2 linked regions of the Homo sapiens genome follow. The protein of the gene in region 1 interacts with the protein of each later gene in a biochemical or structural test. Each region holds a gene or a part of one and is shown in the gene's direction. Other genes may lie near its edges. The genes, in order: RGS14 and GNA11.

Evidence for each region.
Region 2: the proteins of RGS14 (region 1) and GNA11 form a complex in vitro, tested with the Homo sapiens proteins (one study listed by BioGRID).

The regions. Positions count from the first base shown.
Region 1 is NC_000005.10:177,357,791-177,370,753, forward strand, and holds the start of RGS14 (regulator of G-protein signaling 14), read left to right. Parts: upstream 1-133; 5' UTR 134-234; coding exon 235-279; intron 280-5,262; exon of another isoform or gene 5,263-5,334; intron 5,335-8,172; coding exon 8,173-8,194; intron 8,195-8,386; coding exon 8,387-8,565; intron 8,566-8,917; coding exon 8,918-9,010; intron 9,011-9,100; coding exon 9,101-9,244; intron 9,245-9,623; coding exon 9,624-9,767; coding exon of another isoform or gene 9,768-9,923; coding exon 9,924-10,035; intron 10,036-10,366; coding exon 10,367-10,476; intron 10,477-10,926; coding exon 10,927-11,130; intron 11,131-12,797; coding exon of another isoform or gene 12,798-12,800; coding exon 12,801-12,874; intron 12,875-12,963.
Region 2 is NC_000019.10:3,114,685-3,124,499, forward strand, and holds the end of GNA11 (guanine nucleotide-binding protein subunit alpha-11), read left to right. Parts: intron 1-259; coding exon 260-388; intron 389-4,239; coding exon 4,240-4,369; intron 4,370-4,521; coding exon 4,522-4,675; intron 4,676-6,304; coding exon 6,305-6,495; 3' UTR 6,496-9,315; downstream 9,316-9,815. UniProt on the Homo sapiens protein: Guanine nucleotide-binding proteins (G proteins) function as transducers downstream of G protein-coupled receptors (GPCRs) in numerous signaling cascades.

The DNA.
Region 1 (12,963 bases):
GAAGAGGCGTTCGCTCTCTTAGACCTTGCTTCTTTCTGTGGTTTGGTTTCTATAGAGACACTTCCTGTGGCAGAGAAAAGAGGTAGTGAGCGGTGTTTCAGGATGTGAGGGCCCGCAGGAGCCGAGTCAGGCTCTCTCCACTGCCTGCCCGCCACCGTGCAAGCTCTGGCCGGCGCTGCCCACAGTCCCCATGGTGGGCAGCCCCCGCGGCGGGGACCCCTGATCGGCAGCGGCATGCCAGGGAAGCCCAAGCACCTGGGCGTCCCCAACGGGCGCATGGTGAGTGTGGGCTCCGGGCCAGGGCCACGAGGAGGGGGTGGGCACACCCAGGGTGGAGCCCAGGAGGCACACCCGGCAGGGCCAGGCAAGAGCCCACGGGCTGCCAGCAGGCGAGAGAAGTTGGGTACAGACAGCAGCAGGTGGTAGGACCTGGTGCTCTCACCCCTAGACCCTTCCAGATGGCCCAGCCGGGAGCCTGGTACAACCCTGGCAGTGAGGCCAGAGCGGGCACAGGCTTCTGGTCCAGCCCCCACCACTCCCTCACCTGCTGCATCTGGGGCTGCATCCCAGGGTCTCAGGGACACTCGATGTGCTCCTTGCCCCCTGCCCATCCCCACAGTGGCTCAAGCCCCTACATCCCGCTCAGCCTGAGTCCTCCCCTCCTCACCCCCTGCTCCAGGTGCCCAAGGTCATGTTAGTGGCAGCTCTTGCTGGGTCGGTGTCCTCCAGCCGGAGCTACTCCAGAGGCTTCCTGCCAGAACTAGCATTGTTTGGGCAGCCCGGGATGGGGCAGCAGGGTCAGACTAGGTTGATGCAGCTTCTGCCTGTTCTATTCCTGAGCTTCCAGGAAGGGCTGAGCACTAAGATCCCCCTGGCTGCAGCTGCCCCACCCCTTAACCCTCTCCCTGGCTGCTTAGCCCCAGATCAGAGCTGCCCTCAGAGGATCTGGCTCTTCTCATTCATTCAGCAGATGGGGCAAGCTGTGCTGGGCCTCCCTTCTCTCCCTAGGGTTCCCCCCTCACTTGGAAGAGTCCCTCTTAACAACCTCAGGAAGGCCAGTGTCCTGGCCCACCACCAGGCCCCAGCCTAGTATCACGGGCCAAAGCCAGTGGCTCTATAGAGACCTGGGTTCCAGTCCTGGTTCTATTCTCTCTTACTGGAGGGAGGGTCCTCGCCAGCTCTCAGTTTCCTCATCCCTAAAATGAGGAGGTTGGAATGAATTTCAAGGCTTGTTGAGATGATAGAGTGAAATAATGCATATGAGGCCTTTGACCCATTGTGGGGGCTGCATAATTGTCAGCCCAGTGCCCCCTACATTTTCAGCCCCAATTCAAAGATCTCCTGCCTCACCAAGAAGCTGAGGCAGCCCCATCACCACTCCTGCCCCTTAGTTCCCAAAACCTGCCTCTACCTCTTCTTCTTCCAGCATCTCTTTCCTGCCCAGCCCCGGGCTGGCCGGCTGGGAGAGAGGCCACCCTTCAAAGCCAGCTCAGCCCCCCATCTCACTGTCTGCAGTACCGACCCCACAACGAAAGTGCAAAAAGAAAACCCACCTCCCTTGCATTCCCATGTCACAGGCATGACACTTCGCTCGTCCTTGCCTAGGCGACCGGGCCAGGAAGCCAAGGAGGCTAACCCCAGGCCCACCCTGGGAGGGCAACTGGATTGATGCTTCTGGGACAGTGCCTAGAACTACAGGGCAGCAGAGGGGGCCCAGAGACAGACCCAGCCCCTGCCCCTTCTGTGTCAGCCTGTGACTTCTCTACTCAAAAGTCACCTAGAGCAGGGAGGGTGCCCCAAGGTCTGCCCCCAGTTCCATCAAGCCCACAGACGCCCCGGCTCCTCTCAGAACTGTCACACACAGGTTTATCTTTGCCCTTCCTGGGCCTGTTCCAAACTCTCTGTGCCACCTCTTAGAATCCCGAGGGTCACAGATTGGCTGCCTGCTGGTCACTGAGTAGCTTCCCGTGGCCCTGCACAGCTAGGGCAGGGAGGGCCAGACAGGCACTGGGATCTGAGGTGCGGATGTGGATGGAGGGGCGCCTGGGGGACAGGTATGTCTGGTCCCTCCATGAGTTACCTCCCAAGGGAGGCTCAGAGAAGTAAATGCTGTGCCGAGGTCAGCCAGAGAGTAGAGCGTCAGCATCTGAACCCCCAGAACTGCCTGGCCCCAGTCCTCCCCTACCTCTCCTCTCACCACCATCATTCCCTGCTGTGGAAGCTTCAGTTGTCAGCCTTGCCTCTCTGCCATTCAGCTTGTCAGGCAGTTGCAAGGAAACCTGTCACTTGGAGACATCTCCCAGCCCCCTTCCTAGGGATGTCTTCACACAGCCTCTTTACCTTTTCATTTGTTCATGTACTTATTCACTCATTCATTCAACAACCCCTCCTTAGTGCCTGCTTGGTGCTGCCACTGCCCCTATCCTAGACACTCCCGACCCAGGCCCATCAGCCCTAGTCCCTGCCCCCTAGTCTGGCAAGGCACAAAAGACACAGGTGAAAATACCAGGCAGTGGCTCAAGCCTGGAATCCCAGCACTTTGGAAGGCCAATGCAGGAGGATCGCTTGAGCCCAGGAGTTTGAGACCAGCCTGGGCAACATAGTGAGGACCCATCTTCTTTTTAATTAGCTGGGCATGGTGGTATGCACCTGTAGTCCCAGCTACTGGGAAACTGAGGTGGGAGGATCGTTTGACCCCAGGAGGTAAAGGCTGCAGTGAGCTGTGATCACACTCAGACTGCACTGCAGTCTGGGTGAAAGAGCAAGATCCTATATTAAAAAAAAAAAAAAAAAAAAAAAAGATGGAAGGAAGGGAGGGAGGGAGGGAAGGAGGGAGAGAGGAGGCAGGCACAGTTGCTCACGCCTCTAATCCCAGCACTTTAGGAGGCCGAGGCGGGCAGATCATGAGGCCAAGAGATCGAGACCATCCTGGCCAATATGGTGAAACCCCTTCTCTACTAAAGATACAAAAAATTAGCTGGGCGTGGTGGTATGTGCCTGTAGTCCCAGCTACTTGGGAGGCTAAGGCAGGAGAATTGCTTGAACCTGGGAGGCAGAGGTTGCAGTGAGCCGAGTTCGTGCTACTGCACTCCAGCCTGGCGACAGAGCAAGACTCTCCACTAGCTCCATGCACCGTGTTGTAGGAGACGGTCCCTAAAGGGTCTGCAAGCTGGAGGAGGGAGGGCACGGCATAGGCCTGGCTGTGGGCAAACACAGGGACAGGGCCCTAGGGGAGGCTGAGAGTTAAGCCTGGAGGGGCAGTTAGCCTGTCCTGTCCTGTCAGAGGGCCTAGTTAGTCTTCCCCTCCTGGCAGGAAGACCTGCAAGGCAAAGCCCATGCAGCTCTCTCTTTGTCCCTCGCGTCCAGCTCAGGGCACTCGAGTTCAGGGTGGCCTTATACAGGGGCAAGGCCAGGGGTCATCTCCACAGGCTGGTTCAAGTTGAAGGGACCAGACACCCAGATTCTGTGTGGACATCTCCAGACAGGGTCTTGCAGCCCCTCAAGCTAGGATGAAATCCTCAAGAGGATGGTAGAGGGTGCCCAGCATAGAAGATGCTCAGAAAATTGGCCCTCCTTCAAGGTCTGATCCCTCTAGAGGGCACAGTTCAAGAGGAGCCCCTGAGCAGGTCATGCCAGATTAGACTTGCCCACCTGTGCCCCAAGGGCTGAGGCCCTGGGCCTCCAAGCTTCCTTGGTCCACAAAGGGAGTCAGCTTGGGTAGAGGGTGGGGAGGCCTCAGGCTCCAGAATCAGGCAAACTTGAGTTCTAATCTCAGTTCTGCCACATCTCAGCTGCATGGCTTCTTTGGGCCTCAGTTTCCTCATCTGTAAAATGGGGGTAATAATACCTGCCACACAAGATACCCGTAAAGATGGAGGGAGGACATGAATGTGTGCTGCCAGAGGGTGCCTGCCACACAGTCAAAGCTCAGGAAATTGGGGCCTTACTCTCACCTTAGCATTTTCAGGTGCCAGCAGCTCCCCCAGGACCAAATTCCTAAGAAAAAAATATGACCGGCCGAGGTCCAAGCCTGGGTCCGTGTGTCACTGGCCACCACACCCTTCCTTGCCCTTTCTTCCCCTTTTTCTCCATTCACTCACCACTTCTTCTCAAGCAGGCTGAAGCAGGGGAGGCCAGCCCTGCTCAACACAACTTCCCCAGGCCCTGCAGTGGCAGCCAGGGCAGGCCAGAGCCCCTGCAGGGCCCCTGCACACCTGCACCTCACTCCGCTGTGGGGTGCTGCTCTGATTGTGGCATGCCTGGTGCTTTCACTCATGGGGCCTCATTCAAGCTTCACAGCAGCCTCAGGAAATTGGGAGTGCTGAGCCCCATGCTACCCAGGGAAAACTGAAGCTCAGAGAAGTTACTTGTTCCCGAATAGCAGAGCTGGAATTGGATTCCACCCCCACTCCCACCCATCTCCAGATTTCTGTCCCTACTCAATTTCAGCTCCAGCTATGCTATCAACAACTGTCAGGGCAAGAGAGGCTCAGGATGGAGAGCTACAGGTGGCATTCAGGGGCTGAGAGTCCCTAGTGAAGGGGTGCCAAGGCCAGGGTCCTGATGGCTGCTTGGGAGCACGAGGCAAAGACGGTGCTTCTTGAGGAGGGAGTTCAGATCTGACCCCTCCCACCAACCAGGCCAGCACTCCAGGGGTGACCAGACTGGCAGGGAGAGAGGCCGGGACATGGGTGGATAAGCACGTGGTGGGAAGGGGCATTCAAGGGGCCTGGTGTTTGGGGACGACTAATGTCAACGGGCAGAGATCGGGGAGCAATTCCAAGCGAAGAGCAGGAGCAGATACCCAGGCACTGGCAATGGCAAAGCCGGAAGCAGGGGTGTGGGGAAAATAGAAAAGTTCGGTGAAGTGTAGGGTGGAGGTGAGGGGGAGGAAAATGGGTGAGGCTGAAGGGGGTTCATTAGTCAGGCCCAGGTAGGGTTTTAGCCGTAACCTGGCAACCGCAACGTGCCTCCGGGGGCAGGGAAAGGGCCCGGGTTGGCACCGTGGGGAGGGGTGGGGCCTGGGGAGGATCTAGCAGGCAGCCCCACTTAACGACATTCAGTTAAGCAGAACGTGGAAAATAAACCTGTGAGGGCCAAACAAAATTGAAGTGCTGGCTGGCGCCAGCTCCAGCGCCTATCACCCCTGACTCGGGGTTAGAGGGCAGGACAGAGGCTCAGGGTGTGCGCGAGGAGGGCAGGGCCAAGCAGCCCAGCGGAGGGGGGCGAGTCCGGGTGATTCTCGGGGATCTGGGGGAGGGCGATGACTGCGTCTCCGAGGCTGGGAACACCGTGGCGGTGCAGCCGGGGGAGGAGGAGCCCGGGCGCGGGCAGGTAGGTGCAGGCTGCAGAGGAACCTTGCGGCCGCGCAGGGAAAGGCTTCGTCCCGTCCCTCCTCGCAGCCCTCTGCCGCCCTCGGAGTGGGGACTTTCTCCTGTCGCCGTGGGAAGCACCGACTTTCGTTGGGGGATTTGACTCTGCGGGGAGGACAGAGCGGGGAGCACGAGAGCAGGGCCAGGAGGGGCGGGGCCGGAGACGGGGGCGGGGCGCGCTGGGCCCGACGCCCCGCCCAGCGCGCTCTGCACTAACTCGCTGCCCTCCACTGCAACTTCTTATTCCCGGGCTCCAGATGGGAAGCGAAGCTCAGGGAGGAGCCCGAAGTTGTAAAACTGGAAAAAGTCAGGGCTGGGGTTTGAATCTGGATCTGAGAGACGCCCCCCGCCCCCAACACCTGTGCTCTTTCCTTCTATGGCGGGAGTGGCAAACTCGAATGTGTAGCGGGGTCAGGCATCAACACTGACACAAGAACGACATTAATAGTAACGTTCCTTGAACATTTACTACACGCCCGATAGTGTTCTGAGTTCTTTATATATATTTCACTCATTTAATCGCACCAATCCTTCGAAGTCAGGACCATTATTTGCTCCATTTTTAGAGAGGAAAAAACTGAGGCACAGAGAGGTTAAGTACCTCGTCCAAAGTCACACAGCACAAATTTGACCTCCCAAATTTGAGCCTGCCTCCCACTGCCTCCACAAGTAACATAAATGCATTAAACTGGCCCCAGAGGCCTCTGAGAGGAGTGTAAGCCCTTTTGGGGAAGGTGGTGGCTGCTCAATCCCGGACAAGGTTGTCCTGCTGGGAAGGAGCTGGAGCATTACAGTCTCACGGAGCAAGTGGAATTTAAAATCTCTTGCTTTTTAAATGTGGAAAATACCTTTAAATAAAAATAATAATCATCATAATAAAACCTGAGAGGGCCAAGGTAATAGTAATTTCCCACATATCTGCAGACCGGATCTGGCCCACAGATGGCCGCCCTGTGACCTGAATACTCTCAGGGTGGGAGTAGGAAACAGAGAGGAAGGTTCCATTCAGGAGGGTGGGGGTTGGGGGGCTTTCCGGGGTGGAGATGTTTGCAGGCCTGTTTCCAGTTGGGATGGGAATAAGGGGCTGGTGGTAGGAACTTCTGTGACAGGGCATGGTGAAAGTGTAGGAGGTAAGCGGGAAGTAGGAACTGGGGATGACTCAAGCCCTGATGTTGGAAGCCCGGGTGATGGGAAGAAAGATGGGGGCAGGGAAGCTGGTTTGGTACTGTGTTTTGGTGGAGGCAGAGGGAGCTTCCATTTGGGACTTCCATTTGGGAGCTTGAGGGCTTGTGGGACATTTGAGGGGGGACTCGCCCCCCTCCGCTGGGCTGCCTGGCCCTGCCCTCCTCGCGCACACCCTGAGCCTCTGTCCTGCCCTCTAACCCCAAGTCAGGGGTGATAGGCGCTGGAGCCGTTACCAGGAAGTTGGTTATGTGTGTCTGGAGCTGTGGATCTGTGGATGGGACAAAGTGCCCAGGACAGAGCCAGAGAGGGGTTGAGGCCACATTGCATGAGTGGGAGATAGTGGGGAAGCTGGAGGAGCTGCTAGGAAGGTAAAAAGAGAAACAAGAGAAACCACCGCAAGAGTCATTTTGAGAGGAGAGTTTTTCTGTTTCACTAATGATTGGGATTCCCAGAGAAACCAGAGTTGTGCACTGGGGGCAAGGATGGAGTTAGTTACTGCAGCAGTACTACTCACAGAGTAGTCCCTGAACCAGCAGCATCAGCATCGCCTGGGAGCTTGGTAGAAATGGACAGCCTCAGGCCCCATCTTGGACCTACTGAACCTGAATCTCCAGAGGTGGGGTCCTCCCACTCTGCACTGAAGTTTGAGAACCACTGCTCTGTACTATAGACCAGCATCTTGTGCCCTCCCACGGTGGTAATGGGACCCTGGGCCCAATAGGCAACACGTGCGATAGTAAGATCACTGGCTGCAGAGACACCTCTCCTTCCTCAAAGACAGCACATGTTTATACAGCCCATATCACATGCTGGCCCATGTTCTAGATGCTGTGGATATATTTTTATTTGATTTTCTTTTATTGAGACGGAGCTTTGCTCTTGTCACCCGGGCTGGAGGGCAATGCCACAATCTCAGCTCACTGCAACCTCTGCCTCCTGGGTTCAAGCGATTCTCCTGCCTCAGCCTCCCGAGTAGCTGGGATTACAGGCATCCACAACCACATCCAGCTAATTTTTTTTTTTTTTTGTATTTTTAGTAGAGACTGGGTTTCACCATGTTGGCCAGGCTGGTCTCGAACTCCTGACCTCAGGTGATCCACCCATCTCGGCCTCCCAAAGTGCTGGGATTACAGGCGTGAGCCACCGTGTCCAGCCAATGCTGTGAATATATTAAACTGACTTGATCTTTACATCAAGATGGAAGCAAATGGTTTGCCTCCATTTGTAAATAGGCATTATCTCCTATTTACAGATTACAGATGGAGGCAAACAAGTTAACTAACTTGCCCAAAGTTACACAGCTAGTAAGTGGCAGAGACTAAAGTCTGTTCCTACCCACCATGCTATGCACACCTGGCTCACCCAGCAGGGGCTGGGGGAGGAGGGAACCAGGGGCTGCTGGAAGGTACCTGCCATAAGTCCCAGTACTTAGTGGTTGGCACAGGATGGAAGGGGAGCCAGGGGCAGACTGAGGAAAACCCTGACCAAGTAGAACCTGGCCGGGGATGCCCAGGTGGAGGAGAACGCAGTTCCAGCTCCTGGGAGTCGGGCCCAGAACTGTCCCCTGGGAATCCTCACTGGGCTCTTCTGACTTTCTCTGTTGGGTCTCTTATAGGTTCTGGCTGTGTCAGATGGAGGTAAGTGACAGAATGTGTGGAGAACTGGCTGAGTGGGAGGGAGGAGGGAGGTGGAGATGGGTGGGGACACCCCTGCCACCTGCTATCTTTCCAGGGAACATGGCTGCAGAGTGGATGCATGGGGGAGGGTGGGTTGTGCCAGGGGCTGGGGAAGGCAGCAAGGCTCACCCCAACTTGTCCATCCCCCTGCAGAGCTGAGCAGCACGACGGGGCCCCAGGGCCAGGGCGAGGGCCGCGGCAGCTCTCTCAGCATCCACAGCCTCCCCAGTGGTCCCAGCAGCCCCTTCCCAACCGAGGAGCAGCCTGTGGCCAGCTGGGCCCTGTCCTTCGAGCGGCTGTTGCAGGACCCGCTGGGCCTGGCTTACTTCACTGTAAGCCTGGGGTAGGGAAAGGGAAGGGGGGACACGGGAGAGGGCAGGGCGTGGATGGAGCTTCAGGCTGGCCAGAGTGGGGTCCTCTGTCAGCTTCCTCATCTAGCCTTCCTGCAGCACCCTCTTCCTCTTCTCCCAGCTGGGAACTTTTCTTCCTTCTCCCTGTCCTTGTCTCTGCCTCTCATTTTCTCTCCCTGTCTTCAGATCGGTCTGGCTCCGTCTGTCTGTCTGGCCCTGTCTGTCTGGCTTGGTCTCTTGGCCCTGTCTCTGTCCCAATCTTTTTGATCACATCCCCCAGTTTGGTCTCTGTGTCTCTGAGTCTCTGCCTGCCTCCCCCTCCTTCCCCTCCCAGGAGTTCCTGAAGAAGGAGTTCAGCGCGGAAAACGTGACTTTCTGGAAGGCCTGCGAGCGCTTCCAGCAGATCCCGGCCAGCGATACCCAGCAGGTGGGGGAAGGGGGAGCTGGGGCCGAGGGCTGGGGAGAGGGGAACTGGGCCACGCTCCCTGACCAACTCCTCCTGTCCCTCCTCCTTCAGCTAGCTCAGGAGGCCCGCAACATCTACCAGGAGTTCCTGTCCAGCCAGGCGCTGAGCCCAGTGAACATCGACCGTCAGGCCTGGCTTGGCGAGGAGGTGCTGGCCGAGCCCCGGCCGGACATGTTTCGGGCACAGCAGCTTCAGGTGGGCGATCCTGGGGGGATTGGCCTTGAAAGGGAGACAAAAGGAGCAGGGGCGGGGTCGGACCCTGGCGGGGAGTCTGAACTACAAAGCGGAGGGGGCAAATTTGGAGGCGGAGACAGAGCCAAATGCCGGGGCAGGCAGGGCGGAGCTCAGAGGGCGGTATCAGAGGCACGGGGAAGGACAGTTAGAGGCGGAGCCTAGCTGAGCTCGGGGCGGGCTTGGACCCCGGGGGTGGGTATAGGAACTGAGGTCGGGGCGGGGCTTGGGAAATCCAGCCCTAGGTTTGGGGCGGGGCCAGCCCCAAGGACCCGGCCTGGGTGCAGGCAGCCCAGCGCCCCCACCCCAGCCCCGGCTCACCTGTTCCGGGGTCGCCCCGCAGATCTTCAACTTGATGAAGTTCGACAGCTATGCGCGCTTCGTCAAGTCCCCGCTGTACCGCGAGTGCCTGCTAGCCGAAGCCGAGGGACGCCCTCTGCGGGAACCTGGCTCCTCGCGCCTCGGCAGCCCTGACGCCACGAGGAAGGTGCGTGGGACTGGGCGAGGGACTGGGCGAGGCAGGGGGTCCTGCGGACCGCGTGCAAGAGGGGACGCCTCCGGGTGCAGATCTGCGAGTCTGTGCCCACGGTCTGCATGCGGGCTGGGGCCCAGCCCGGTGCCAGCGCCTCCCCTGTACCCACAGAAGCCGAAGCTGAAGCCCGGGAAGTCGCTGCCGCTGGGTGTGGAGGAGTTGGGGCAGCTGCCACCCGTTGAGGGTCCTGGGGGCCGCCCTCTCCGCAAGTCCTTCCGCCGGGGTGAGGGCAGGAGCGAGCAACAGAGATGTGGGGAAGGCGGGAGTTTGGTTAAATTTGGGGAGTGCCCCCTTCCTCCTACGTGGCCCACAGTCTGTAAGTCTGTGAAAATTGAAACCCAGGTCCCAGTGACCACCACACTCCCCTGGGTGGTTCGGGTCTTGGGCTAGACCTCAGACGTTTGGAAATCTCCAACGGTGGTGTCGCTCCCAGGGATTTACACCTGGGCCCCTGCAGGATGGCTCCAAACAAGGCCCACCAGTGGGGAACAGGCTTCCGCAGAGGATGGGTGAGGGCGGGGGGCTGTTCGCGTTCATCGCTCCCTCTTCACTAGAGCTGGGCGGGACTGCAAACGCCGCCTTGCGCCGAGAGTCTCAGGGCTCCCTCAACTCCTCCGCCAGCCTGGACCTTGGCTTCCTAGCCTTCGTCAGCAGCAAATCTGAGGTGAGCCGACTGTTGGGGAAGACAAGATGCTCTATGGGCTAGAGTCACTACTCAGGCCCATTTACGTGGTGGCCCTCATTCCAAGTTGCTGTCCTTACTGCGTCTCCCAGCTTGCTCTGCGTAGCCAACCCTTCAGCCTCCTTACTTGTCTCACTACATTGGTCCCCATATATGTCATGGGTACACATCCTCAGTTGGCAAATGTGTGCACATGTGCAGCACCCAGGTGTGTATACACAGCACGTGTGTGGGAATCAGCGGGTGGACCCGTCTCTAGGTGCCCATATGCCTGGGTGTGCATACATGTGTTCCTGCAGGAGGACGTATCTTTGCCTGCCTTGGGAGTGCGTGTGCATGCTTGAGCCCCAGCAAGCTTACCTATCTCTGTGTACCTGTGTGCATGCCCTTGCATGTGTACACATAATCTCCCCCACTCCTGCCATGAATCAGAGCCACCGGAAGAGCCTTGGGAGCACGGAGGGTGAAAGTGAAAGCCGGCCAGGGAAGTACTGCTGTGTGTACCTGCCCGATGGCACAGCCTCCTTGGCCCTGGCCAGACCTGGCCTCACCATCCGAGACATGCTGGCAGGGATCTGTGAGAAACGAGGCCTCTCTCTACCTGACATCAAGGTCTACCTGGTGGGCAATGAACAGGTGGGAACGTGACCTGGCTCCAACTCTAACCTCCTTCCTGATCCTGACCCCAACTCCATTTCTGTCTCTGCTCAGTCATGGCTCCAACCCCAATTCAAGTTCTAAACCCAACTCCAAAGCACCCTCAGCACCAACTTTCACTCACTCAGACATCCACCCACCCCCCACCTCATGTCCTTCCAGGTTTCCACCTTCATCCATCATCCTATTGTGGTGACCTTAGGGAGGTAAAACTGGAGAGAACCACTGTTGGAGCTGGGGTTTGCCCCTCATCATTCCCAGAGTCCAGACTCCCATCCCCACAGACCCATCCTGGAAATGGCCATCCGTGGGGTGCCCTCACCTCCTTAGCCTCTAGGGGCACCCAAGTGCACCTAACCAATGAACTTTTTCCTTTAGGTGCAAACTAGCTTAAACTTTAAAGAAGACCTAGGGGAAAACTGGCTTTAAAGGAAACCATTCAGTCAGGGGAATCTCAAGGAAGAATGCTACCTTCCAGGGGGCCATCGGGATTTCATTTACCTAGTAGACAAGTCCTAAGGCCTTGCCAGGTGTGTGGGGGAGAGGAACCTAGATCTGGGGCTGTCCTCCTGGCCCACAGGCTGAAAGTAAGCCAAGCAGGGAGTGATCAGGGAGGAGGAAGAGTGAAAACTCCAGAGAAGGTCTCTTGGGAGAGGGTAGGCATTTCTGGCTGGTGTCCGGAAGGCTTCATGGAAGAAGCAGCAGTAGATGTGGATGGGCAGAGCTGTGGGGGAGGATATTCCAGGCAGAGGGAACAGCTTAGGCAAAGGCCTGCAGGTGGGTACTTGCGGGGCATGTTCAGGGGCCTGGAGTGCAGGGGTGCGAGGGCAGTAGTGGGAGGCATTTTGCCCACTCTTCTCAGGCCGCTAGGGCGGCTGCCAGCAGCCCAGATGGGCTTTCATACATGCTAAATATAACTTCCTCACCCACACTCCACCTGCTCCTGCAGCACAGCATAAGCCTACTGCCTGGGAGATGCTGCCCCCAACCCCCACATCAGGCTGGAGCAGGCAGTGGGGCCTCTGAAGGTGGTCATCACGAGAGTTACTGTTTATGTACCTACTGTGTGCCAGGCATTGTGCCAGATGCTTCACATCCTCTGGTTTCACAGCAGTTTTGAGGGTGGGCCCTTTTTGAATGAGGAAACAAGAAGTGTCCTTAGTAGCGGGGAATGGAGAGAAGTGGACAAATGTCAAAAATGGGACCAGGCCAGGGTGGTTGGTCAAAGGTGGGTGGTGAGGGAGGAAATGCTTCCAGCTGGTCTGGTCGGATTTCACACACCTGAGGGACACGAGACAGCTGTCCTGGAGGCAGAGCCTGTCCTGGCACAGAAAGAGTAGGCCAGAGATCCCGGATCTAGGCCTGCCCCTTATCATTTCATGCCAGCAGCTACGTTTCTCGTAATTTCTGTCCTTTCCCAAGAATGTCCAGCATTCTTGCCACTTTTCTCCCTGGCCTTGGCTTTCCTGGGCTTGGACTCCAGCTTGGTACCTTAACCCATTTGCTCCCCTACAGCTCTTCCACCCTCCATCCCTTCCTCTAGGAAGCCCAGTGGTGGCCATGGGAGGGCGTGAAGTTGTTCTCAGACCCACAGGGATGGCTGGGGGTTGGGGGAGGGACTCTTAGACCCTGCCTGGCATCCACAGAAGGCCCTGGTCCTGGATCAGGACTGCACCGTGCTGGCGGATCAGGAAGTGCGGCTGGAAAACAGGATCACCTTCGAGTGAGTGTCCTGCCCCCAAGTCTGGGTCCCAGGTCCTGACGCTCCCTTCAGGCCCTGTTCTAGCTACCTGGCTCCCCAGGCCCCGCCCC
Region 2 (9,815 bases), on another chromosome or scaffold:
CTGGGACTTTCTCTTGTGCTGGGTCATTTCTGTCCCCTGAGACCCCAGAGAGGATAGAGGTTGGGAGGCTCGTATCCCGACCCCAGGGTCTCCATTGGCCCGAGCCCTCCGGGCTGCTTCAGACACTGCCGTAGGTGGCGCAGTGCGCGGTCCACCCCCTCCTGGTGGCTTTCCGTCCTCCCGCTGGTTTGGGTGCTGTGTCCCTGTCCTGCCCCCCCACCCCCGGCAGCCGGCCTGAGCACCCACCGCTGTGTTGCAGCTACCTGACCGACGTTGACCGCATCGCCACCTTGGGCTACCTGCCCACCCAGCAGGACGTGCTGCGGGTCCGCGTGCCCACCACCGGCATCATCGAGTACCCTTTCGACCTGGAGAACATCATCTTCCGGTACCGCCCGGGCCACAGCAGGCGGGGAGGGGGCACTGAGAGGCTCATTTGCCCGGTGTGCCGGCTCATGCCTGCGCACCCAGTGCTTTGGGAGGCCAAGGCGGGAGGATCGCCTGAGTCCAGGAGTTTGAGACCACCCTGGGCAACATAGCCAGACCTCATATCTAAAAAAAATTTTAAAAATTAGCTGGGCGTGGTTGTGTGCACCTGTGGTCCCAGCTACTCAGGAGGCTGAGGCAGGAGGATCGCTCAAGCCCAGGAGGTTGAGGCTGAAGTGAGCCATGATGGCACCACTGGACTCCAGCCTGGGCGACAGAGGGAGACCCTGTTTCGTCTTATTAAACAAAAGAAAGCCCATTGGTCTTCATCCTCAGTGTGTGTTTGACCAGGTCAGGGGATAAGATTTATCTCTAAGTATGTGTGAGCCAGGGCCACACAGGGAAGGAGCTGTGGGGGTGTGGGGGGCGTGGCCACATCCATCCAGACCGGCAGCCGAAGAGACCTGGCAGGGAGGACATTTGACAGGGCCTCCAGGACGGGCCGGGGGCCTGGTTGGAGCCAGCATGGGGCTGGGGTCTGGAGTGCTGGCCGGAGCAGGGGGTGCCGCATGGTGCGGGAGGGGTCATAGGGACTGAGGCTGCCAGGGGAGGGGGCTCATGGGGACCGAGGCTGTGAGGGGAGGAGGGGTCATAGGGACCGAGGCTGTGAGGGGAGGGGGGGGGTCACGGGGACCGAGGCTGTGAGTGGAGGAGGGGTCATAGGGACTGAGTGGGGAGGAGGGGTCATAGGGACTGAGGCTGTGAGGGGAGGAGGGGTCATAGGGGCCGAGGCTGTCAGGGAAGAGGGGTCATGGGGACCGAGGCTGTGAGGGGAGGAGGGGTCGTGGGGACCGAGGCTTTGAGGGGAGGAGGGGTCATAGGGACTGAGTGGGGAGGAGGGCTCCAGGCTGGGGTGGAGGAGCTGGGTGGTGTGGGGTGGATTCTGTTCTTCACGGGCTGCCCCTGCGGATCCTGCTGGGCCTCCGGGGCTCCAGGTCCACTGTGGCTGGGGGCCGGCCAGCAGAGCCGGGTTCTCCCTGGGGACCCTCAGTGGGTCCTGTGTCTGGTAGGCTGCTCAGCTGGCTGGACTCTGCTGTCCCTGGGAACGTGGACCCTGCCTGCCTGTCTCCTGGCCCCATATAACATCTCCAGCGCTGAGGTCCCGGCTTTATGCGTGCCTGTCCTGGGCTGCTGGTGTCGGGCGTGAGACTCCCACCGCAGGCCTTATTCCCGCCCAGTGCTGGAGGCCAGAAGGCTGAGATGCAGGTGTGGGCCGGGCCAGGTCCTTCTGAGGCTGAGGGGATCTGCCCAGGCCTCACTCGGCTCCTAGTGGCGGCCGCATCCTTGGCATCCTTGGCATCCTTGGCATCCTTGGCTTGTGGCCGGGTTGCCTCATCCCTGCCCCCATCCTCATGCAGCGTCCTCCCCGCCTGCGCCTTTGCCTCTGTTCTCTTATAACCTGTCCTTGGCCAGGGCCACCCTACCTCTGTGTGACGTTATCCTAACCAGTGACATCCGCACAGACCCTGTTTCCAGATCAGAGCCGTCCCCGGGTTCTGGTGTTCGTGCGTGTGGGGCGCTAGACGGCTCTGTCCTGGAGGGCCTCGCGGTGGCTCCGGTTGCGGGTGCCTTCTCCTGCAGTGCAAGCTCGCCCTGGCACTGGCCCTCATGAGGGAATGACGCCTCCCTGCCAGGGTGTCCCCACCCAGCTGGTGCACTGCCGAGGCCATTGTGAGGGTTCCGGGAAGTCTGTGGGGTTTTCCTCGAGAGCCCTGCCTTGAGACCCACCCCAGGGCTGGGGGTGCCACCCCCTGCCATCTGCCTGTTCTCCCCACCCGTCCTCCCAGCTCGGCCTCCCAGCGCAGGCAGGGAGGATGCGGCGTGAAGATGGAGGCAGGGATGGAGCAATGTGGCCACAAGCCAAGGAATGCCAAGCTCTGGGATGGTTCCCGGGGACCCGAGCAGGCGCTGGGCCCTCAGAAGCTGCGGTGTCCTCTCTGGACATGGGCGATGGTGTATATTGTTACGAGAATTCAAGTTTTTCTTCTTTTTTATTCACACGGGGCCCATGACCCCAGGATACAGCTGAGGCGAGCCAGGCATAGGCCAGGTTGTGGCATGAATGTCCCCTCACAGCCCCACGCTGGCCTCTTAACAGCGCAGGCCTCTGTGTCCTCTGTCAGAAATGTCCTGTCCCCTCCCTGAGCTGAGCTCAGGCTGGGTGTGTCACCCCCTCTCCACCATCTTCCAGGCCCTTCCCAGCTCCAGCTGTGCCCTTTTCTTTTTTTTGAGACGGAGTCTTGCTCTGTCGCCCAGGCTGGAGTGCAGCTGTGCAATCTGGGCTCACTGCAAGCTCCGCCTCCCGGGTTCACGCCATTCTCCTGCCTCAGCCTCCCGAGTAGCTGGGACTATAGACGCCCGCCACCACGCCTGGCTAATTTTTTGTACTTTTTAGTAGAGATGTGGTTTCACCATGTTAGCCAGGATGGTCTCGACCTCCTGACCTCGTGATCCGCCTGCCTCGGCCTCCCAAAGTGCTGGGATTACAGGCGTGAGCCACCGCGCCCGGCCCGGCTGTGCCCTCTGTGCCGGGTGCAGACCCCCGTCCTGAGCCTACTCCTCTGCCACCATTGTTTCTCTGCCAGCCGCCTCTGTCCACCACACGCTGGCAGAGGGCCGGCCAGGTGCTGTGGGATGCAGCTGGAGGCCTTGAAGGCCGGTGGGATCGTCCCAGTGCGTGAGGAGAGGCTCCTGCTCCCTCAGGTGGGGACAAGACACGGGGGGACCCGGATCCCAGCCCTGCCGGCCGCCGCAGGCGTGCAGGAGAGGCCTCGCGCTCCAGACGGGCTGTGGCCTGGTGTCGGCACACCCACTGTCCTCCCGCCTGGCCACAGCTGCTGGTGCGGGCCCTCTTGTCCCTTAGAGTCACCTGGCACATCTGTCATCCACCGGTGCCTGCTGGACTCCCCCGCAGACCAGACCAGGTGGATTTCACCACTCACATGCCCAAAGCAGCCCCGCTCTCCTCGGCAGAGTTGCAGGGACCCCGGCCTTCCCTGGGGCCTGGGGCCAGGGCCTGAGGGGCACTCTCCGCTTCTGCCTTTGTATTCTTTCAAGGAGACCAAAGTGCCTTTTCTCGTTATAGAAAACTTAGAAAAGTCACAAGTAGAAAGAGGCAAACGTCCCGTAAGGAACGCACGCCCGCAGACATCGTCTGAGCTGATTTTCTTTCTCCCGCCTGTGCGTGGCCTGAGAGTGTGAGGTTGAGCTGCTCACCACGCGGGGCAGGGCGCTGCGCCTGCTCTTCTGCCCCAGGAGGATACCGGCAACTCTGCCCTCTGCAGCCGTCACTGGAGGGTCCCTGCAGGGAGCAACTGTGGCATCAGTGTTTACTCCTGCGAGTGACGCTTGGTGAACATCTGTGTCCCTGGCCCAGTGAGGGGAAAGGCTTCTGTGCTCAGGGTGACATCCAGATGCCAGATGTAGGGTCCCTGGGCACCCATCGCAGGTTCCCGCAGCAGCTGGCGCCCAGAATCCTCTGGGTTCTCACACCCCCACACTAGCGCCCGCTTCCCTGGGCCCAGTGGTCTCAGGCCCCTTTGCCAGTGAGGGAAGGGTCTGCGGTGGTCACCCCTGGAGGCGGTGCGGCCGCTCTCTGAGAGCGTCCTTGCCCGTTCTAAGAGTGGGGGCTCTTCCTGCTCCAGCCGATGTCAGTCTGGTGTGGCAGGAGGGGCTTGGGTGGGAGCCGTCCTGGGATTGCAGATTGGGCCTTGGGGCGCCAGGTGGCTGAGTCCTGGCGCTGTGTCCTTTCAGGATGGTGGATGTGGGGGGCCAGCGGTCGGAGCGGAGGAAGTGGATCCACTGCTTTGAGAACGTGACATCCATCATGTTTCTCGTCGCCCTCAGCGAATACGACCAAGTCCTGGTGGAGTCGGACAACGAGGTGGGCCCTGCCCTGAGCAGGGGCAGCGTTGGGGGCCGGGCCTTCCCCACCTGCCAAGCCTGGGTCCCCTCACCTGGGTCCCCCCAGCTGCCCCTTGGGCTGTGTGCAGTGGGGAGGGCCCCTCTGATTCCCTCTGCCTTCGCTCCCGCCAGAACCGGATGGAGGAGAGCAAAGCCCTGTTCCGGACCATCATCACCTACCCCTGGTTCCAGAACTCCTCCGTCATCCTCTTCCTCAACAAGAAGGACCTGCTGGAGGACAAGATCCTGTACTCGCACCTGGTGGACTACTTCCCCGAGTTCGATGGTGCGCCGGGCTGCGGCATGGGGAGGGGCTCGCGGGCAGGGCCTTACTGGGGGGAGGGGGCTGATATGGGAGAGGGGCTCATACAGGCCGGGAGCTCTAAGGGAGGGCGTCTGATGGGAGGTGTCATGTATGGGAGTGGAGTCTCAGGGAAGGGAGATCTCGTATGAGGGGGGCCTGTACGGGAATGAGTTCTCCGACGCGGGTGTCTCATACCCGTGGGAGATCTGTTAATGCAGGGACTCCTTATACAGGAGGGGTCTCGGGTGGGAGGGGTCTCGGGCAGGGGGATCTCGGGTGGGAGGAGTCTTGTACAAGGAGGGCACCATGGGAGGGGGAGTCTTGTATTGGTGGGTCTTGTACGGGAGGGAGTTGTCGTATGGGGGTGTCCTGTATAGGTGATCCCATATGGGAGGGGTCTCACAGGAAGGGTTCACGCACACTGCCAGCGCAGCCCCGTGGGGACCTTGGTGGTAGTCCCTGCATCCTCCTCTGTGCCCTACTGCCCCCACCCTCGGACCCGTCCCTCCCTACGTGGCCCCTGCCCCACGGGGTGTGTCAGGGCAGCTGAGCACTGAGGGTCTTCACATGCCCAGCCCTCTCTGGGCCTGGGGATGGCGGCCAGGGGAGGGTGTTGTGTGCCCTCGTCTGTGTGGTCAGTGGCTGCCGTTAGTGCTGTCACCACTCAGAGCTGTCCCTGCCAGGCACAGTGAGGCCCTGGGCAGCTCTGGCGCCCTCATTTCCACCCCGGATCTGTGCTCCTCCCGTGAGTCTCGGGTGTCATCTTCGGGAGGGCCCCTCAGGGTGCCCTGCCTCTGGATGTGCAGCGAGAGGGAGGGGTCTGGCACACGGTATAGCCTCGGCCGCTGGCTGCAGGCGCAGGGCCCTGCTGTCCCTGGGCAGGGGAGTGGCGGGGGGCGCTGCACCTGCTCCAGCCGCACGTGGCCCCTGCCCAGCAGCCTGTCCTGTGGGCTCAGAGAGCCCTGGTGGGGGGAGGCCAAGGGACTGGGGCATAGACCCCTGTCCCACCAGTCCCCAGAGCAGCCCCTTGAACACCCCCAGGGGCCTTTCCACCGGGGCAGGCAGGAGTTACTGGGCGGGTCGCCTGCATTGTCCAGGGTGGTGGAGGGGCAGGGGTGGCCGGTGGGAAGCAGCGCCCCTGCTGGAGCCCCTGGATGTCTCTGAGGCCTGGCTGCAGCAGGGGCACCGTGGGTGGGTGGGGGCCACTGTTCCTGCTCTGTAGGCTCTGTGCCCAGCCCTGGGGGCCTCTCCTCTCACCCTGGGCCTTCGCAGGGCAGCCATGCCAGAGGCCTGCCCTGGAAGGCTGTGGCTGTGGAGCTGAGTGGATAGAGGCCGGCAGAGGGCTGAGCAGAGGGAGCAGCGGTGGGTGCAGAGCCCCAGGTTGGAGGCCTGGGCCGTGACAGTAGTGCCCTGGGGCTACAGTGGGATTGGCACCGCAGCTCACCTGGGGAGGGAGGGGAGCTGCGGCCCGTCAGGCATGCAGTGGGCTGGGGGTCGAGCTGGGTGGGCCGTGGGCCTTACTCGCTCATCCCCTGGGAGTGACAAAGGGGCCCACGAGTCCCTTGCCCTGGGCCGGGCTGGGGCACAGCCTCACCCTCTGCCCTCCCCCAGGTCCCCAGCGGGACGCCCAGGCGGCGCGGGAGTTCATCCTGAAGATGTTCGTGGACCTGAACCCCGACAGCGACAAGATCATCTACTCACACTTCACGTGTGCCACCGACACGGAGAACATCCGCTTCGTGTTCGCGGCCGTGAAGGACACCATCCTGCAGCTCAACCTCAAGGAGTACAACCTGGTCTGAGCGCCCAGGCCCAGGGAGACGGGATGGAGACACGGGGCAGGACCTTCCTTCCACGGAGCCTGCGGCTGCCGGGCGGGTGGCGCTGCCGAGTCCGGGCCGGGGCCTCTGCCCGCGGGAGGAGATTTTTTTTTTTCATATTTTTAACAAATGGTTTTTATTTCACAGTTATCAGGGGATGTACATCTCTCCCTCCGTACACTTCGCGCACCTTCTCACCTTTTGTCAACGGCAAAGGCAGCCTTTTTCTGGCCTTGACTTATGGCTCGCTTTTTTCTAAAAAAAAAAAAAAAAGAAAGAAAGAAAAAAAGCAACGAAACATAAAACACACAAGCGCCCCGTGCCCCCAGTGACTCTGGGCCTCACAGAGCCCCCGCCAGCCAGCATGGGGCCCCGCCCTGCAGCCAGTCACGCGCCCCCACACCGCAGCCCCCCGTGGCTGTCCTTCCAACCCCACGTGCTTTTTCTTTCTCCTGCCCGCTTCTTTTCTTCATCACAAAAGGCGTGGAGACTCGGAGACGGACGTTTTTCCCCTTTTTTAAGTTATTGACGCCCAGCGCGCCTCGCCTCTTCACCCATCAACGCTGTGCTTTGCCCACTGGACTCCTGAAGAGGGGGTGGGGGGCTCCCTCGGTCGCCCACCCTGGGAAGTGCCTAACCTTTTATTTTATTTTATTTTTTTGAGGAAAAAGAACGCCTGACTCACAGGTTGAAGAAACACCCTGGGCCCTCTCTCATGGCCGGGTTCCCCGTCCCTCTGCAGAGGCTGGGAAGGGTCCCCGGGCTGGAGCCACGGGGGCTTCTCTGGGCTGTGCCTCCGGGGCCAACACTGGCTGCTTGGGGCTGCCCGGGGACTCCAGAGGGCTGCACGGCCACCCTGCCCTGGCTAGAGCGCACCCCACCGGAGCCCACGTGGGCTGGGCGGCTGGAGGGATGGTCCCCCGGTGACACTGGGAGAAAGGCCACTTGGATGGGGGCGTTTCTGTTTTGTTCCGCTTTGTGATGTCACCAATTTGGAAACAGCGAGGGTGGGTGGGGACTTTTACAGAATATTCTCAGGTGTGTACCCGAGAGGCAGAGAGAGGGACGTGGCCGGCAGCTCTGTGCGTGGCCTTGTCCCAAGCACTTGCGCCCGCCCCCGAGCGCCGCCCCCGGGGAGCGGGAAGCCAGCACTCGCACTTTGGCCAGGGGCGCGTGGAAGGTGGTGGCAGGCACCGGCCTGGGCAGCTTCCAGGCCTGGCTGGCCACGACCACGGCCCGAGGGGGAGCCCGCCAGGCCACGCCGCACTGAGCCACAGCCCCGGGGGCCGCCTCCCGGGGCCCCTTGAGGCACTGAGGCACCGAGACTGGTTCTCCCCGAGAGACTCGGAAGGTGGGGAACGAGGGGACTGTGTTTGGGGAGGTGGCTTTTTCGTCTGCTGTTGACTGAACACTACAGCGCCCTGTGGTTCCGGGCTTCGCACAGCTGTCCCAGGGATGGATCGCCTGTGCTGCCTTCGCCCGCCGCCACACCGGGACCCTGCACGGCTGCTTCTGGCCTCGACAGATGACAAAAGAAACAGCCCCAAAATACGACCACTCCAACCAGCAGTTCCCGCCTGCCTGCCCGCCACTGTCAGGCCTGCCCTGGCCTCCTCGTCCGCAGGGCTGTCTGCTGGCTTCTGGGGGCAGAAGAGCGGGGAGCCCCGTGGAAGGGTCAGGGGAGACCAGGTCAGGGCAGCTACATTTCTGGTGATCAGCCCCATGGGGAGACGGGGCTGGCGGGATACCCCCCCCCCGGCTTCCCCACACCACTTCTGTCTCACCCGGAAGCGTCCTTTTTTTGTGCCAGGTGTCTACCTAAGAGGGTTGGTGCCAGAAGCCCCCCATGGCGAGTGCTGGGGCCCGGCGGTGCCCTGGGGGAGCAGATGGGGCCACCCCTGGCAGGGCCGCTACAACCTTTTCCAGCAGCGGAGCCCTCTGGGGGGCCTGTGCTTGTGGCATCTCTGAGGGCCTAGATTGCACAAGGTGACCTGGCCGTGGCCTGAGGGTGGAGTCGCCCAGCACGCAGGCCGGGGCGCTGCGGGGCTAAGTATTAGGCCTTCCCAGGGAGGGGGCGTGCCAAGCATCCCAGAGCCGGGCTGGGACCGCCAAAACGTCGTGGCCTGGATCCTCTGGGTCTGAGTGCCTGATCCCCTGCCCCCCAAAAAAGCAGAGGTAGGTGTTGCAGGCCCAGGGCAGGGGTGCCTGCCCCAGGAGAGTCCCAGGCAGTGGTTCTCGTGCCAGTGGCACCCAGGGGCAAGGACAGCCAACCCCCACCCTTGCCACGTGTGGGGCCACGTGGGCATGTGGGGTGTGTGTTTTTACCTTGGTGAATCTCACCTGCCAACGATTTCTCGTGAGTGCCGACCACCTTCTCCGACCATGTTACGCCCGGGCGGCAGCAGCCCCCGGCCACTGCAAACCCATGCCCTGGGTCCCCCGGCTCCCCCAGGGAGGCATCCCCGTGCCAATGTCCCCCAGTGGTGGCAGCAGATCCTGTGGCCGGCCTGGCGGACGGGACCCAGTGATACTTGTATATTACACAGTCCTGATTTCAGACAATTTCAACCTTAATCTATTTAAAAAAGAATATTCTATACAAGCTGTTTTTAAGCCTTTTACCATTTGAAATGCATGTGTTGTGCGCGTTGGGGATGGGAGGAGGGGCTGAGGAGCGGCTCAGTGTCACCTCCCACAGCCACCGGCCCTGACCCTTAATCCAGACACCGATGGAAGTCGACTTTTCATATCTTTCTCCTGAAATGAACTCTGTTTTAAATTGGAATAAATTTTGTTCCTAAATGCTGGCGGCCCCCTTCTGGTTTATTTCCTGTTGTCCTTCAAAGGGGGCTGGGGGGAAGTGTGCAGAGGCCTGGCCCCCAGGAGCCCTGGAGTTACCTAGGGCATTGCCTGACCTCAGTGGGGCCGCCTGGGTGCCTCCGCACGGTGTCCCGGGGCCCCTCCCCTGTCATCTTGTTTGACCCTTCACTTCAAGTTCATTTCACTAGCACCAGGCCAGAGCAACCTGCTTGGGAAATGCCACCTTGTTTGGGGGCTGGGGACAAGGGAGTGAGACGGGGAGGAGCCCAGGTCCCAGGCCAGCCTGCCCCTCACCTTCCAGGGCACCTGTGGGGACATCATGCCCTCCGGGCCTCCGTTTCTGTAAGCTGCGGATGTGGGACCTCTGCAGCCTTCCTTCAGTTATTTTTTCCTTTTGAAAAAAAATTGTAAAATACAGATAAATTTCTAAGTGCACAGCTCAGCGGCATTAAGTGTATCCACACGGTTGTGCAGCCATCACC